Homo sapiens: one gene and its partner. The protein of the gene in region 1 interacts with the protein of each later gene in a biochemical or structural test. Each region holds a gene or a part of one and is shown in the gene's direction. Other genes may lie near its edges. The genes, in order: GDF11 and ACVR2B.

What was found.
Region 2: the proteins of GDF11 (region 1) and ACVR2B interact in a biophysical measurement, tested with the Homo sapiens proteins (one study listed by IntAct).

The regions. Positions count from the first base shown.
Region 1 is NC_000012.12:55,752,866-55,757,798, forward strand, and holds the end of GDF11 (growth/differentiation factor 11 preproprotein), read left to right. Parts: 3' UTR 1-4,399; downstream 4,400-4,933. Other genes in the region: SARNP (SAP domain-containing ribonucleoprotein), read right to left, coding at 4,647-4,688. UniProt on the Homo sapiens protein: Secreted signal that acts globally to regulate anterior/posterior axial patterning during development. May play critical roles in patterning both mesodermal and neural tissues. It is required for proper vertebral patterning and orofacial development.
Region 2 is NC_000003.12:38,484,833-38,492,122, forward strand, and holds part of ACVR2B (activin receptor type-2B precursor), read left to right. Parts: 3' UTR 1-7,290. UniProt on the Homo sapiens protein: Transmembrane serine/threonine kinase activin type-2 receptor forming an activin receptor complex with activin type-1 serine/threonine kinase receptors (ACVR1, ACVR1B or ACVR1c).

The DNA.
Region 1 (4,933 bases):
AAGAGTTTAGAATTCAGTGCTGAGCTCTTCTCCCTAATCAAGTGCCACATTTACACCTTGGAGAACCGGAGGTGAAGAGGATCTGAGACAGGAAACCTCGTGTTCAATGACTAAGAAGATGGGGTCCTGGAGCAAGACAGAAAACACTAAGGGCATGGTGGTATAAGGTTTGGGACATGCAGGCCAAGGAAGGATGGAAAGAGGACAGGAAACTGGGGGTACCTAGAACAACCCCTCTCTGAAAAGCTTGAGCCAAAACAGTCCCAAAGACAACAAGACCCCTCTCCCAGCCTCCACAGAATGGAAGATCTAAAGGTTCTCTTGAGATGATCCAGCTAGTATGGAAGATCTAAAGGTTCTCTTGAGATGATCCAGCTAGTGTCCTATTCTCCTGCAGTCCCTGTTCCTAGGTTTCCTCAACGAAGTTTGACAAAAATCTAAACCAACATAGCCAACGAACTTGCCTTGTTACACAAGAGTGGCTAAAATAGCATCTCAAATATTCTTTCAGTTCACTGTAAAAATTTTTCCCATGTACCTAGAGCACAATTCCCCAGGAATATGAGTTGGGAATGGCAAAAGAATATTGCCTGACTCACATTTTTCAAAAATAAGGAAAGCTGGCTGGGCGCAGTGGCTTACATCTGTAATCCCAGCACTTTGGGGGGCCGAGGCGGGCGGATCATGCAAGGTCCGGAGTTCGAGACCATGCTGGCCAACATTGTGAAACCTCATCTCTACTAAAATACCCAAAATTAGCCGGGCGTGGTGGCGTGCGCCTGTAATCCCAGCTACATGGAAGGCTGAGGCAGAAGAATCGCTTGAACCCAGGTGGCGGAGGTTGCAGTGAGCTGAGATCGCACCACTGCACTCTAGCATGGTGACAGAGTGAGACTCCCATCTCCAAAAAAAAAAAAAAAAAAAAAAAAAGGAAAGCAGGACCCAGTGGTGTGCTCCTGTAGTTCCAGCTATTCAGGAGGCTGTGGCAGGAGGACCACTTGAGGCCAGAGGGTCAAGGCTGCAGTGTGCTATAATTGGGCCTGTAAATAGCCACTGTACTCCAAGCTGAGCAACACAGTAAGACACTGTCTCTAAAAATAATTAAAGTAAAATAAAAATAAGGAAAGCTCCTGTGACATCAACCTGATCCAGAATTGGGGACAGCGCTACTGCGGGTTCAATGTACTGCCATGTTTTCCCTGTCTTATCAGTTCTATCAGCACACTGACCCCACTCGAGACCAACTACAAGACTAAGGCTGGAAGTGGTTGAGTAGCAGAAGTGTTATGTATTCTATCTTCCCAAGGGAACCATATCCACATCTACCCCTAACTTTGGCCTGAGCTGAAAATGGGTTTTCTCTCCCTGTGGCTCATTTGTTTCCTATATTGAGAGAACACCCAAAAAAAGACTACTCAAGATGACTTTTTACAAGTCTTTTCTTTATCCTAAAACATCCTCCAACCGAAGGCATGGGAAGCTATCCTATACTCTGACCTTGCCTATATTTTAAATGGCAGGGGCCCCAAGCTAAGAATCAGCAGGCAGTGGCATCTACAGCTTCTGGTCTGTAGTGGCGTAGAAGCAGGAAAATCAATGCTCCAAAGCAACAATGTCCAGCTTTCCTGCCAGTGAGCTGGGCTTGAGGGAGTGAATGGGACTCTTTCTGCCTTTTCTTTTTCTCAAAATACGACTGCATTAACTGGGTGTATGCACACACAAACATGTTCAAACTAGGGCACTCATACCTAGCTAGAACCTACTCAGGGAAAGAAATATGTATTTCCACAGTACCCTGATCACCCAGTAAAAGCTAATATTTATTGAATAATTACTATGCAAATTATGGTAAGCAAATTGTAGTGTGAATACATGATATGAGAATATCACTTAATTCACACAGCAACCTTCACAATGGGGTTCCTTTTGGTACAGTCTGAAAAGAGAATGATTATCTGCGCAGGGTCTCAGAGCTAGTGTGGTAGAATAAGAAATTAAACCTAAGTAGTTGCTAAACAATATTACATTCTAATCTATCCTATTGAAAGTGATCCGGGAGGTAGAAACCTAAATACAGGAATAACATAAGGGAAAGAGATAACAAGAAAGTTAGGGACACCTTGGACTCAAAGAATCTGGAAAGATGTGAAACCTGTAATTTTAAATCCCTTTGGAAGGGAAAAACAAGAAAAGTCTAGATATGGCAAGAGAAGGGGAGGTTAAATTTTGGGGGGATTCCAATAATCAGAAATAAGTGGCATTGCCAGAGGCCCTCATATAAGAGAACAGCAAAAAAGTTATCCTCCCTTAAGTTCCTCCCTCACTCCTCATATCAGACACAGCAAGAGAACTCAGCTCAACACCAAGAAGTCCTGCCCTTATTCACACCTTCCTTCCTATAGCCCTCATCCTCACAGAAGCTTCTAGCCTCTATCTTCAGCAGTTCTTAAGAGGTGGGGTGGGGGGCTGGGCAGTTTAGAGTGAGAGTGGAAAAAAAGAATAATCCTAGAGAACCATAAAAAAGTACAGATTTACAGCTGAGGAAGCTAGTTCTCCCCACAGCTTTTATAGACTCCCTCATTAAGAGCTTCCAGGTATGCAGAGAATGTCACAGCTTCAGGAATTGGAATCAGTTAACCACATCTGGATGCTGGATCAACTATAGTAGGGAAACGGGGAGAGGAAGGAAGGGTACTAAGATCTCAGGTAAACAATTACAAGCCTCAATGTCTGTTCCATCTCCAAACGGAATTACTATTTTAAAACTGAATTGGGAAAAAGGCATCCTGAACTATTCATGCTCAAAGAGTATGTGGAGAATGACTATAATGAGATAGGAAGGGGAGGACTTCATCTGGCTTGGAGGTTAGAGACTTCTGACCAACATAGGAACAGCTGCTGAAATGGGATGAAAGAGGTTAATAAGAAAAAAAAAAAAATCCTCACAAATTGGAAAACACTGTTCAAAGATCTAGGGGAAGTAAGATGAGTGAGGAGAATAATTAGGCTTCAAGAAGAGAATCCTGGCAAGTAAGGCTGAATATCTTTCTGGAAGGTTATAGAGGATAAAGAGACGAAGAAAACTTCCAAAAGATCCACTGTTCCACTTCATAATCAGCATCTGCTCTATTCCCTCATGTATTTTTCTCTTTTTAAAACCATATTCAGGAAGAAACCATTAGTGAATCTATAATCTCTCAAGTTACAAATCAGATCTATTCTGTTTTCAGATGAAGGCAGAGTAGAGAGAGGAAAAGCTAGCCCCAAGATCAGAGCCTGAGGTAAAGAAAAGGAAGGCAGACAGAAAAGAGGGAAAAGGGAAGGTCATTCCAATTTTAAGGTTTATTTGGTTGAAGAGGTGTCAAAAATTTAACCAGCATTCCCTTTTGTTCACTTCTCCAAAGTCTCAGAATGGGGCAAACTTCACAACAAATGGGCAGCAGTTTTTGGATCTGCTCTCCAAGGCACAATTTTTCTAAATTATCTAAACTTTAGGTCCCTGCTTTCCTCACCAACCAGAGACTTTGGAGAAATAAAGAGATATCTTGACATTAGAAAGGTGATCAAACTATTACCATTTCATTAAGCACAAAACCAGGCAGGTTTTAGTAGAAATAAGGATAAAGGATTACACCACAGCAACATGGGACCTGATCATAGTACCAAAGTCTTCAGGTAAGGTGTCAGGCTCCTAAGTCTTATTACCAAAAATAGCTCAAACAAAAACCGAGCTTATATAAAGATTAAGAGGAGAAATTCTGCAATAACATATCCAAAAAGATTAAGCAGGTTTCAGATCTACATGAACTTGAAGCCTCCAGTTCCACTGCTTATGTTCCCAATGATTTAGCTAACAATGCGTAACAGCTCTGACATCCTCTGTCATGCTTTGATTCTGCATACAAAATTTCTTCTGTCTCTGAGGGATATCCAGCCCATCTCCCTTCCTGAACTGACTGACCAACATAGTATCGTATCACATCACCCTTGAAATCAGGGCCCTTTTCCTTTAATGTGGGACCCTGGACTCCATTTTATCCAAGAAAAAGTCTGCATTATTAGCTAATAACAGAAGGCTACTAATCACTGCCCTTGTATTTATATCCTTTGCAACACCTAAAACCTCCCATGTTCTGTTTTATTTCAGTGGGTCACTACAAGCTGCTGGAGCAAAGACTTGGTGGGTGGGTAACTTAACCTCTTCACAGAGGATAAAAAATGCTTGTGAGTATGACAGAAGGGAATAAACAGGCTTAAAGGGTAAACTCAGTCCTTTTCCTTGTCTTCTCTTCTAAGGGATAAAGGTATTATGGCCAATTCTCTATAATATTTGCCCCTGAAGCTCCCCTTATCTGGTCTAATCTAGCTCCAATAAATCAAAGGAGCACCTAATAAAACACATTGTTCTCTTTTCTATTTTTTTTTATTAACAAGCAACATAATCAAAAACAAAAACACAACAACCTTAAAGCTGAAACAGCAATAAGTCAAACTGCTGCCGCAGTTCATGGATGTACCTGGGGTACATGCTCCCTCATTGCGAGGCAGGACGTAGGCACATGACTGTGCATTTAGGCATATATGTGACCAAGAAGAAGGAGAGAAATGGAAAACACTGGAGAACAGAAAGTATCAGGAACTTTTCATCAGGCAATCCCAAAGCGCTCTGCTCTTTTCCTCTTCTTTGCCTGTAAAGAAGAAGCAAGAAGAAAAAAATTAGACTGAAGACAATAGTTGCCTGGGTTCCTGGCTGCTTTAATCCAAACTCACATGAACTGTCACAAGGCCCGAGAAGGAAGGATGGCCCAGACTTGAGCTTGGTAGCTAGAGATTTCATTCCTGAATCTCTCCAATCCTTCCAGTTATCCAGTAGGAGCTGGAAAGTTTAATGGGTAAGGAGGGTGAGGAGTAAAGAAGATTACTGGGGGTGAGG
Region 2 (7,290 bases), on another chromosome or scaffold:
TAGTTGTGTTGTCTTGTAGTAAGTATATTTTAATGTAAGTTGGCTTTTGTGACAAGGAAGTTTAAAAGAAATAGAGAAAAAGAAAAAAGTTTGCATCTTCTAGGGAGTGCTACCATTTTTGTTTGATAACGCCCCCTTGTAAATAATTGTCATCAACTGTAGGTTGGCTGTCTGGGCCAAGTCTGGGCATTTATCAGTCTTGTTTGTGAAGGCTTTTCCTTCTGGTTTCTTTAGATCATTTTATTTAAAAACAGTGCATCTCTTCATCGTGAGGGTAGGCAAGGCGGGGGCCGTGGGGAGAGGTTGACCTGGGTGAGAACTGAAGAGGCCGCCTCCTCTTGGGTTGTTTGGAGCTTCACATGTAATTCACATGTAACATGTAACTTGATCGGTCAGTGTTCAGAATGACAAGTAACCCCGCTTAAACTTGGTAGAAGGATGGCCCTTAGACCTGAATGGGGTGATTTTACTTGGGATTTAACTTCTTCAGCAAATTAACAGCAACGTTGGAAGAGATCTGTGGCGCCTCTGTGAAGCACACCGTGACTCAGGCCAGTCTTTTAGTGCAGCGTGTCTGGGAGTGAAGGGTTTTGCCCTTGCTGGTCTTGGAGTCCACAGTGTGAGGGGCACTGCACATGCCTGGGCATCTACCTAGTGTGCTATGTTCAGTGTCTGGGGCTTACTGCCCCGGGGTCCTTTCCTCTGGGTGTTGGGGCACAGGGTGCTATGGGAGGCCCATTTGCTTCCCTCTCGGAGCTCAGTTTTTGCTTCATGGGTCAAAATGTGGGCTGGCCAAGTGGTTACAGGAACAGGGTTTCGGTAAGCTATGTTGTCTTTTTTTTTTTTTTTTTTTTTTTTTTTAATGGTTTGATTTTGTGCTGTGGTATTTTTTTTCCCTTAGAATAATTTTTAATGGCAAAACAGGCCTTACAGCAGTTGCTTTTCTTTACCATTTATTTCTTTAAGAAGCTTTAAAATATTTATTGAAAAGTGCCATATCTAATTTCTTTAGCTTTCGCCTCAGGCAGTGCAGGCATCTTTACTTTTCATCCTCAGAAGAAACAAACGACTAACAAATGTAGCAAATTTACTGCAGGAATAGTTAGGTCATGATACTACCTGAACACTAAACCCCAGCCTCTTTGTTTGGTTTTAGTTCCTCTGGGTGGTTTTTCTTTTGTGTGCTGGCTTGATTCTTGTGAGAAGTTTTGACCTGGCCAAGGGAGGGTTGAGCCATGGTTCTGGTGTGGGACTTTGCGGTCAAGACACAGTACAGACAGGTCAGGCCTGCGTGCCTTTTCTCTGGGTGGCCTCCCCGTTAGGCCCACCGTACGCTCAGCCACTATAGTGTCCCTGTGGGGCCTTGCCATCAGATTGTGTGTCAGGAGATGGTACCTTTTTGGTGTGGCTGGGGAGGAGTGTGGTCCATGCCAGTTCTTTGGGCTTCAGGCCACTCTTCCCCTCATGCTGTGGTGTAAAGTGCACCCATCAGGTGGTATATCTGGTTCTGATGGCAAGAAGAAGGTGGGGGATCTCCTTATAGGGCATGGGTCTAGGAGCACAGATGGGCCTTTTGCCCCGGGTAAATGCTTGTCTGTTTGCTGTCATGTGTTCTTTGAGGAGTGAGCCATCTCGAGCCCTGCTTTGAATTTACTGGGTCATAGAGCCTCTGCCTGTGCTCTTTTCCATAATGACTTCATGTGACATGCACTTTTGGTGGGCTCAGATAATTGGTTTCTTTTTGTTTTTGACCTCAGGCTCTGTGGCAGACTGGGGAAAATGGGGCCTGGCATCATTTTCCCTGTCAATGGGAGGGGCTGTTCCATGCAGGGTGGGAGGGGACCAAGTTAGCAGAGAGTAGCCAAGGATCCTTGCTTCTTCCTTTCTAGTGTGCTGTCATCCAAGCAGGCTCCTGGCTGTAGGGATGGGCCTTGGGGAAGAATCTTCTTTGAAAGCATCTATGATAACTGAGAAGTCATCCCTAGTTGGAGAAATCCAGTAATGAGCAGAAGGAGGAAGCAAGTGAGGACAGAGGCCATTGTATTACAGTGTCACGCAGAGGGCCCTCAATGATGGGGCATTGGGGAAGGCTGTAGACATAGTCATCAGAACATCCTGGCCTGGCATAAGCTGGGTTTTCTCCTGGGACCATTGGTCCTCAGCAGGAGTTCTTTGCATGAGTTGCTCAGGGGCAAGGGCTGCAAGTGGGCTGTGCTTAGGAGAAAGTGACACCTGGCAGTGAGGGAAGATGGTGAGCATTATTAGCCTTTGTTGTCCAGCATGGCCTTCTTGTCCTGTCTGCTCTGGAGAGGAGCCTGTGGGACCAGTCCTGCCTGGGGAGGGCATACCCACACGTGCCAGCTGATTCTGACTCTGAATACATCATGTCCGGACTTGGGGGTGTTTCTGCAGAAAAAGGAGGTTGTTTTTCAGCCTTGAACATCTTCAGGAGGATAGAGACTCTTGCTCACATATTCTTAGCAAAGGGAAGGGTCTCTCATCTCCAGGCCACAGAGATAGTTCTTCCATTGCCCTAAGAGGCTAGGCTAACCCTCTTGACATAACTTAGACAGCAAAGCACTTCATCCTGTAGTTGGGCTCTGTCACCTTTCTCTTCAGTTGGCCACATTCTCGTTTCCTCCATCCTGCTATGCTTTGTGTGCTCGGGCTGTGTGTGGGGTTTTTCCCTGGTGGAAGGAAGCCCAGCTGTGTATTGAATGTCCTTCATGTGTTGTGTGTGGCTCAGAAAGCCTGTCACTTGGCCCCTGTGCTCTGAGCCGTGAGGGTGGGGAGGTGGCTGTTCCATTAAAGTGGGAGTATTGGATGGCCCTCTTGAAACTAGAATTTTGCCTTTTTTAGTATGCAGTATAAAGTTTCCAGCATCTATTGGTAACACAAAGATTTGCTGGTTTTTAAAATAATACAGTAAGCATAAGTATGTAAGTTTTTAGAATTGGTACTAGAAGTTGGACAGCTAGTTATTCTCGAGAACTTTATTTCACTAGAAAAATATACTAATTGGAAAGCAGTTTCCAGGAGTTAACTCAGTTTAATTTTCAGTCTCAGTTATTTTAGCCTGTTGAGTTTTTGATGGCACACCTTTGGAGAGATGGCCACGCCTGATTCCCATTTCAGGGGCATCAGACCATACCTTTTTAAGAAGCTCCGTGAATCTAGTCATCTACCCTTCATCCTGGGCGAACAGCCAAAAAGAGAAGGGGACAAGGTGTCTTTTTCTCCTTCTCACTGGGGTGACATGAATTCTTTTAGTTAATGGCTGTTTGCAAATTCTAAACTAATGAAATACTTAGCAGCTAACATGTTCAATCTAGTAATGATGAGTTTAAATCTCAATTGACAGTAATGTTTTAGATAAACAGGCCCAGTAATTCAGTTGATGAACTGTATATCTTCTCAGTCTAGATTTGTAAATGTTTAATGAATTCAGGGTTATAAGCATAGTTCTTTAAGTAAGATTCCAGATAGTTGATTTGCAACCAGCAGTCTACCTATGAATGTATCCCAAACCTTTAGAAGATTGGAAAAGATTTTTGAAATAATGATTTAGTTTTGTAGGAAAAACACCCCCTTGAAAATTAATTCGGTTGACCCAGTAACATTTTTTAAAACAATTGGTGGCTCCAAAAGGCCTGCCAACAAAGAAAAGTCCAAATTATCTAGTGGGACATTTTGAATGTTTTATGTTTATTTTGGGTCCACTGTAAACTTTGGTTCAAAAAAGAATTTGAATTTAAAGAATTTACCATTATTTAAATTATTACCAAGTTTTTACATTTTCATGATGGTATTTTCCAGGTATGAATGAAACATGACTTTTTGATTGTGGTACTTCCTGTATCCCCTGTAGTGCCAAAACCAGTGATACTTTATTTGCTCCTATGGCAGCTCATAGAGGTAACCGAAGTGATTTTTCCTCAGTAATTGAAACACATATTCTCTAAATGCCAATGTGTGGTGATGGGCCCTGCACTGCCTTCATTTCTCTAGGGCAGTGTCTTTGGATTGTCTAGGGCCTAGGTAATTCTGAGAACTACTGTAAACCAACCACAGGGCACTAAAGCAATGTACACACCACTCTTTGTGTGTATGGAAGGGGTTATATAAACCTGGGCTATGCTGGACATCTACAGAAGAGTATTACATTCACTTGCAAAGTTTACATTTTTGAGCTCACAGTTATGAAAAATATGACCCACAAGTTTTTCAGGCAGGTGAGGATGGGTCTTCTTGCAAATGCATGAGTTCTGTCTTGAGTCCTGGGAACTTCTCTGTTGGTTGAGTGTGGGCTCATTCCCTGACTCTCCTAATCATGTTTGCGTCAGAATGTTAGCATTGTAAATAAAAGAATAGGTTGTATAATAGATACACAACACTTGAAACTTTACTTTAAAAAAATCGATAGTTCTACATATATATTTAGTTATATCACTTGACAGATTTCTTCTACACAGTGTGGAGATTGTTTTATACCACAGATTATTTTTATAAAGTTAGTGAATTTGAATGATTTTGTAATCAGAGCTAATGAGCTTTACCTTTCAAGAGAAACGTACACTGGAGCATGAGTGGTGTGGAACTTTTACTTAGTGTTTATATGGATTCTTGTGATACACTGGCAGACTGGAGTCAATTTGCGGGTCTTTTTTGGCCAAAACTCCACTTGTGGTTGTGTAGGACAGTGATATTCAGCTCAGCTTCTTGTGGATTGGGAGGAGAGAGGGCCTGCAATGTGTTTTACATTGGTGCTTCCTCCTGAGATTTCTGTTGAACAAAGGGTTCTGAGGTCAAAAATTAGTTTGTAAGCCTTTGCCATAGGACATAGTCATGTGAGAGTGTTTGGGGGAACAGAAATTGTATAGGGGTGCCTATTGGGGTGGGATGGGACTCGAATAAGATTCAGGTACAAAAACTTTGAAATGAGAATCTGGTGGTTTGAGTAATCCACCAGACTGAATTATCTAAGATCACATTATCCAGGTTGGGGGGCAGAATTACCCAGTTAAGTAATTGTTCAGAAAAGTGGGGAGGGTGGCATGTGGATGCAGTGATCCAATTAAATGGAGAGCTGCCAGGCACATTTTGTCCTCTCTGGTCAGTGAGAATGGTTGGGTTGGCTCGCTGCTTCAATCTGTGGAATCAGCCAGGAGCCCAGTGAGGAAGCTCAGAACCCCAGTAACAGCAGAGCATCTTTCAGATAGCTCCAGAGTTTTCCTGCTTTTCTGAGGAAGCTCAGCATCACTGCCACAATACGGAAAGTGGTCTTCATTTTAGCCTATTTATTTTTAGGCAGAGAGTGGATGGTTATTTGTGTGGGACTTTTGGTGGCGATATATAATGAATAATTAAGTTAATTTCTGGTATGCATAATGGCCAGTCCTGAGGCCCAGCTGAAGACCTGTCCCCCAGACCCTGCCCGCTGGCTTCAGGCTGCTGCTTCTAGACAGAGGTGCACTGGACGGGATAGTTTTATCAAGAGAATCCCTAATGTGTCATTTTAAACCAGCTGTGCTTTTTATTCATTCTGGTTGAGCGTATAGGTTTACACTTTACCCTTTTTATACTTGGAATAAATTTAGTTCCAGCAGATCTAGTAGCACTCCAGAAACCAACCCCATCTGTTCCCCATAAAAAGAACATTTTCTCTGCTCTCCAGCCACGTGTCTTGGAATGTAATTCTGTTGTGCCTTTGTTTTTATCACTCTCTTCGCCCCAAAAGCAACTGCTGTAAGCTTTTTTCTACTTGTCTTTTCTAGTCCCCAACCTCTACCTTTTTCCTTTTTCCCAGCCCTAATTTCTGGATGCACTTCTGTGATCCAGGTATTTTAAGAACCAGTTACCTCAGACCTCATGTTGAACAGTGTCGCCATCTGGGTCCTCTTGATACTGCAGACTTTTAACGTACACATGCAGGAACCCTGCTGAGCGTGGGCACTTGTTTTAAAGCAAAACTCTTCCCAAGGACTGAAGAAAGGGCTTCTGGCAAGCTCGTCATGGCATTGTGGTGGGATGGGTCTAGAGTGTCATCTGAATGGTGCTTCCTGTGTTCCTCTTTGAATTCTGCCATTTTCAGTATTCTTGTGTGTCTGAATAGGCAAAGCGATTTAATTGGCTGGTCTTGCACGCAAATTAGTTCCAAAGATAAGCTCTTTGTAACACATTTCCAGTCGCTAATGCTCAAATGTAGAACATTCCTTTAAATGGCAGGATAAAAAACCCACTATCCACCATAGTGCATTTTGGGAAGATGTCTGTAGCATATGTTGCTGTGAAATTAGGCCTTGTGGGATATGGCTGTTTGTCATTTTGATGTATTTTAAATAAATATATATATTTTTTAAAGAGCCTTTTTTACCAGTTCAAAAAGTTTAATTAACCAGCAGTCACCGCATCTGAATTTTTGTCTCTGGGGCATAGATGGCAGACCAAGATTAAAAGTGGTAACTCAGCTATACGAGCATGGGCTACCTTCCTGGGCTCTCCTGCAGTCCTGTAGACCTGCTGTTCCGCAGACCATGGGACACAAGGTCAGTGTGTTCCCAGTGAGGGTCCCAAGTCAGTCATCTTAAGTGTTTGTTCTCTGCCCCATTCAGTGGACTGTTGACTTCAGTCCCTGCAAGTGCTTTAGCCCGAGTGGGGTTTTCTCAGAGCACTGCCACGAGTTAAGTGTGTGTTTAGCCAAATAATTTCTCCGTAAGGGAAAAATGCAGTCACCCAAATTTTACCAACAATGACAGAGATGAGAGTAGAAAAGATTAGGCAACATCTGAGTTTTAACTTGAAAAGTGTCCAAGTCATCATGAAAGGCCGACTGGGAGCAAGTGATTATTAGAGATTCTTCAGGAGACCTCATCTGAAAATGTTAAGACTGCCAGTGAGGGAAGGAATTGTTAAAATGCCAGCGGCTTTTTTTTCCTCTTTTTTTCTGTAATTCTGTAAAAATGCAGAGAAAGTTGAGTGGTACTTCAGAATTGAGGGAGAGGGTTACCGCAGAGTAGAAATATATTTCTAGATTTCAGTTCCACACCACAAATCCACAACAATGCCATTTTTCAACTGTACAAAAATCTGCTTATGAACTGGACATGATCTTAATGGTAGTGTCAAAGGCCAAGTTTTTCACCTGTTAATATTTTTCCACATTTGTCCTTGAATCTGAATAACTTTATACAGTACTGTAAATTTAACTTACATCGAGTTTGTTGTCAATTCTTATGAAAAGAGCTTTCTGCATGTAACACATACGGTTAAAGAACACAGCAAAGGACAAAA